2 separate regions of the Homo sapiens genome follow, and region 2 is linked to region 1. Evidence: fine-mapped expression QTL. Tissue or cell type: monocytes. Region 1 holds a variant in brackets; the other region holds the start of a gene. All regions are shown on one strand. Distances are between the middles of the regions.

Region 1 (2,683 bases):
AGCACCATCTTCACGTGGCAGAGTGATGGGGAGGAGGTGCTATACACTTTCAAACAAGCAGCATTAGGGGGATGGTGTTAAACAATTAGGAACTGCCCTCATGATCCAATCACATCGCACCAGGCCCCTCCTCCAACAGTGGGAATTATAATTTGACATGAGATTTGGGTGGGGACACAGAGCCAAACCATATCAACTATAAACTTCATTAATAATCAACTAAGTGCAAAATAACCTAACACAGTATTGCTTTAAAATTACTGTATCTGGCTGGGCACAGTGGCTCATGCCTGTAAGTCCAACATTTTGGGAGGCTGAGGTAGGCAGATCACTTGAGGTCAGGAGTTTGAGACCAGCCTGGCCAACATGGTGAAACCCCATCTCTATTAAAAATACAAAAATTAGCCAGGCATGGTGGTGGGTGCCTGTAATCCCAGCTACTCGGGAGGCTGAGGCAGGAGAATCACTTGAATCTGGGGGATGGAGTTTGCAGTGAGTTGAGATTGCACCACTGCACTCCAGCCCGGGTGACAGAGTGAGACTCTGTCTTCACACACAAAAAAATAAAGTTACTGAATCTGCAAACATGATAACGTCAACATATAATACTGCTGATATTGAAGTGAAACTTATACTCTCATACATTGTTGTTGGCTGTTTAAATTGAGATGAAGAGGAGTTATTTTTTATTATTTTATTATTTTAAACTTGGAATTTTATCCTGAGAAAATATCATTAGGAAAGGAAAGGAAAGATTAAAATGATTGCAGCATTATTTGTAATGAAGAAAAGTTGGAAACAAACCACAGTCCAAGTCCCCCAAAAGTAACATGCTGTGGTTTTCATAAACACATGATCCTCATACGGTAACTCCAGTGATGGCACCCTGTGTGATATGCACACCATATGCGGGTGATGGCACCCCAGGTGATGGGCACACTGTATGCAGGTGATGGCCTGCCAGGTGATGGGCACACTGTATGCTGGTGATGGCACCCCAGGTGATGGGCACACTGTATGCAGGTGACAGCACCCCATGTGATGGGCACGTTATATGCAGGTGATGGTACCCCACGTGATGGGCACACTGTGACTTGGGGAATGAGACTCCCACTCTTTTTACCTCAGGGTCATTGCTGCCTGGCCATGTCGCAAAGTCCTGCAGAGCCAGGGTCACCTGTCCTTAGTGCTTGCCGCCGTGTTGTAATTGGCAGGCTTTGCTCCAACTCAGTGTGTGTAG[C/T]GAGTGCAGCAAGGGCCTGGGGACCTGAGGACAGTAATTTGACAGCTCCATCCTGGGGTGGGAGAGGTCCTGCTGCCCCTGTGGGGTGACCTATTATGGGCTGGGTGAGTGGCAGCCCTGGTGTTTGTGTTGGACTGATGGCCTCACAAGCACATTGAGGTTTCTTGCTGACAGAATCCCCATGGGGGTCATGGCATGAGTTCACGGGGCCAAACTGGTATGGGAATTTTCACCTCACCAAAGTGATGGACACTTCCCACCATCTAGTGAATTCAGGGTTAATCAAACAACACCACATCTAACGTAGTACAGTCGTGACTTTCCTGAAGCCCATGCATGGTCCGGGTAAGTGTCATCTTCTACCAAATCATCTTAGTTTTTATATGGGTGGCGAAGATTCTTGGGGGAATGAGATGCATGTGTCTCCTGGGAGTGAGCAACAGGGAGCTCTGGTGTCCTGGTGGCTCGTCCTCATTTCCCTCCACCACCCAGGCCCTCTCACCACCCAGCTGCAGCAATGATAGCTCTGCCTCTTTGTTTCTTCCCTCAAATGTGTCCATTACCCTAATCTCTCACTTCTTATGGAGTGGTTTTGTGCAAGTGCGGGCCCAGAAGTGCTTTGTGAACCCATGGCCTCAGACTTGAGCATGCAACAGATTCTCCTAGGCGGCTTGCCTAGTAACAGAGTGTGGGATGCGCCCCCAGAGGCCGGAGTCTGGGGTTGGTGTAGGGCCTGGGGATGGGCCTTTCTACTCATCTAGGTAGAAATGCCAATTAGTGAGTGACCGTGGTCTAACCCACCCCCCTTTACCAGAGGTGAGAAATTAGGAGGGGTCTGTCACCTGAGCAGCCTTGATGCGGGGAGAGCATAACAGAATGAAGACGAAGAGCACCTGCCCTATGTTTGGCACTTGATACCTGCCCTCTTTCACCCAACCCACTGCACCCTGAATGCAAATGCTTCGGGATGGCCTCGCTTCCATCGCCAACACTGAGATTCAGACCCTGGTCTTCTGACAGGGTCCCTTGGGCTTTGGCCTGGACACATCTGTGCTCCTCCTGTGTTTAGAAACTGGGTTTTGTTGACGTGACAAGAGCTAGGTGACTTTTCCACTTTGATTAGTGGGGAGTGTGGGCGAGAGCTATTTTTTCAAACTTTCCCATCAGTTTGCCAAGCAGTGTCCTTCATCAGCTTGGGAGATAAGGGCAGCACGTCGGGCCTTTGCACAGATTTACATCATCCCCTGTGTTGATCATGGAACATAAGCAAAACATCACTTTGTTTTTTTTCCCCGTGTTAAAAACAACTTCCTTTCTGAGGTGTCCCTGGATTGCAGCATTTCTTCCCTTTGAAAGTTTGACTTTGCCCTTGACTCTTGTATTGTTTTTCAGAGCATGGATTGCCCAATTTTCAGCTGCTGGTGAGTAAGCAGCACACTGCAC
Region 2 (2,683 bases), 770 kb before region 1:
TAACAGCAAAAATTCTGAACCAATAATAAGAAGCACTTCATAACATGGCCCAGAATGATTTTCTCAGTCTTAGCTTTTTCTGCCTCCCAGCAACACAAGGCCCCATTTTAAACAGGCCTTGCACTTCCACTTCACCTTACAGGGCTTGTTATCTGGGTCTCCTCCTCCCCCTATAAGACCCTTTAAAATACATCTCATCCTTCCAAGGCCAAACTCAATGTTGCCATCTCCAGCAATGTGTTACATATAGCCTTGATGTTGCTTTTAACAATTCTATCGGCCAGGCGCAGTGGCTCACGCCTGTAATCCCAGTACTTTGGGAGGCTGAGGCGGGCAGATCACGAGGTCAGGAGATCGAGACCATCCTGGCTAACACGGTGAAACACCGTCTCTACTAAAAATACAAAAAAATTAGCCGGGCGTGGTGGCGGGCACCTGTAGTCCCAGCTACTAGGGAGGGTGAGGCAGAGCTTGAAGTGAGCCGAGATCGCGCCACTGCACTCCAGCCTGGGTGGCAGAGCGAGACTCTGTCACAAAAAAAAAAAAAAAGAAAAAAAATTCTATCAGCTAGTCTAGCTCCCTACGGTGATTACATGATCCAGGGAAGACATGCGACAAGGGCAAGATAAAACGTTCACCTAGGCCTCATTTCTGCCAAAGCAGAATGTACGTTTGATCTTTCTCCACTTCCTGGAACTTGGTATATGGCCAGCACATTTTCTTTTTATATGAGGGGATTAAAGCAGCTGTAAAAAGCTTAGTCTAACTCCACTTAAAGAAAAAAAAAAAGAGAGAGAGATCAGAGAGTCGGAGTATTTGCCCAAACGCAACATCTACCACTTCCTGAGCCTAAGCACAGTGTAGAAATCTTTCCGACTTATTTTTTTGAGACGGAGTCTCGCTCTGTCGCCCAGACTGGAGTGCAATGCTGCGATCTCGAGTCACTGCAACCTCAGCCTCCCGGATTCAAGCGATTCTCCTGCCTCAGCCTCCCAAATAGCTGGGACTACAGGCCCGCGCCACCACACCTGGCTAATTTTTGTATTTTTAGTAGAGACAGGGTTTCACCATGACCTCAAGTGATCCACCCGTCTCGGCCTCCCAAAGTGCTGGGATTACCGGAGTGAGCCACCGCGCCCGGCCGCCTTTCCAATTTTTTAAGAGCCCTAAGAGCAGTTTAGCCGAGTAAACGGAAGCCCAGGAGCCAGACTTGAGTTTAGGCAAACAGCAATCCAAAACTTTAGTTCTAAAATGCAGAGAGAAAACAACTTGCACTAAGTCACGAAAACTGGCTCGCTGGGGTCATGGACGGTCAACAGGGGCGGCGTCTTCCAGGCCTGGCCGCGCGGGCTAGAGAGGAAGCGTGCGCACTGGCAAGCCAGCACGGAACGAGCAGACGGCCAGGCCCACGGCATCCCACCGCGTCCCAGCCTGCTCCCCAGTTCCACCGCATCCCAGGACCTTCCCAGCCACGCCTGTGTTGTGCACTCGAAACCCACGATCAGCCGCCCCTTCTCCCCGTGCCACAAGACCTACGCAGCGAGCACCACCGCTGACCTCCATCCGCCGCCCTAACTGTCCCCGGAACCATGAGGTGCGCGGCGCGCTTCCCTACGTCACTCGGAGCGCCGGCGGAAACGAGACGAGCCTCGCCCCGCACGTCCGGAAGCCACGCCTCCAGCTTCCGGCCACACCTTTCGGCGGGTGACATCTTTGCTGAGGGCTCAAGCGGAGCGATAGGTCATGGGAAACTTAGAAAAGATAAAGAACCTAGGAAGAAAGGCTTCGGTTGCCCCCCGACCAGTACGCCATCCTCATACGGAGTGCGGGAGACGACCCTTTGTTGTCGGTGCTGTCACCCTATCCCTCCCTGCTTGCGTAGGCGTAGGAGAGTTCCTAGGGCGGTGGAAGACTGGGCTGGTGGAGTGGGATAGGCGACGTTGAGGCCTGTGGGGGCTGGGAGGACGAGTGAGTGGAGACTGGGGAACTCCAGAGCGCCCACTTGCAGCTGGATTTTTATGTGCAATTTTCCTGATTTTTAAATAGTGGTGTTTAATTACAAAGTAAAGTGCAGGATAGCCCAAACGAAATGTATCTGAGGTCTATATATGGACTTGATTAATTTTTACTTCCTGCACAGCCTTTTATTTTCTGTGGAGTTAATAATTACTTGGCTACGCACGGTGGCTCACGCCTGTAATCCCAGGCCTCGGTGGGCGGATCACTTGAGTTCAGGAGTTCGAGACCAGCTTGGCCAACATGGCGAAACCCCGTCTCTACTAAAAATACAAAAAAATTAGCCGGGCGTGGTAGGGCGCACCTGTAGTCCCAGCTACTAGGGAGGCTGAGGCATGAGAATCGCTTGAATCCGGGAGGTGGAGGTTGCAGTGAGCAGCGATCTTGCCACTGCACTCAGCCTGGTTGACAGAGCAAGACTCTGTCGCAAAAAACAAAACAAAAAACATAAAAATAAATAATTACGTTTGTTTGTGTTTGTAAACTAAAAATAAAATTGTAAGCCCCCCAAGCACTGAACGGACCTCCTCTTAGCCAAGGAGACCCCAGAGAAACCTTAAAAACTGAGTTCCCAGCCATTCTGGAAAGGGAGGTTGAACACCCCTTGTTAAAGTAGAGATCATAAGACTAACAGACTTTGTGGTAGTAAGATACCAAATTATAAACA

Which allele goes with the higher level. Alleles are on the strand shown, and positions count from the first base shown. SD is a standard deviation of normalised expression in the study named.
In carriers of allele C in region 1, the expression in monocytes of the gene that starts at base 1,591 in region 2 tends to be lower than with T alone (large effect, 1.7 SD a copy in CEDAR).

What was found. PIP is the estimated chance that this variant, and not a neighbour inherited with it, causes the effect.
Region 2: TBRG4 starts here. The variant in region 1 is fine-mapped to the expression of TBRG4 in monocytes (CEDAR, PIP 0.95).

The regions. Positions count from the first base shown.
Region 1 is chr7:45,879,536-45,882,218 of GRCh38, forward strand. It overlaps a transcript of CCDC201 not described here. Among named protein-coding and RNA genes, the nearest start is that of IGFBP1, 7.6 kb to the right of the region's middle. The variant C/T (reference allele first, on the strand shown) is at 1,241.
Region 2 is chr7:45,110,107-45,112,789 of GRCh38, forward strand. It overlaps TBRG4 (transforming growth factor beta regulator 4), which reads right to left and starts at 1,591. Exons shown (of 11, transcript NM_004749.4): 1 at 1,537-1,591. RefSeq lists enhancers at 1,290-1,999, 1,363-2,118.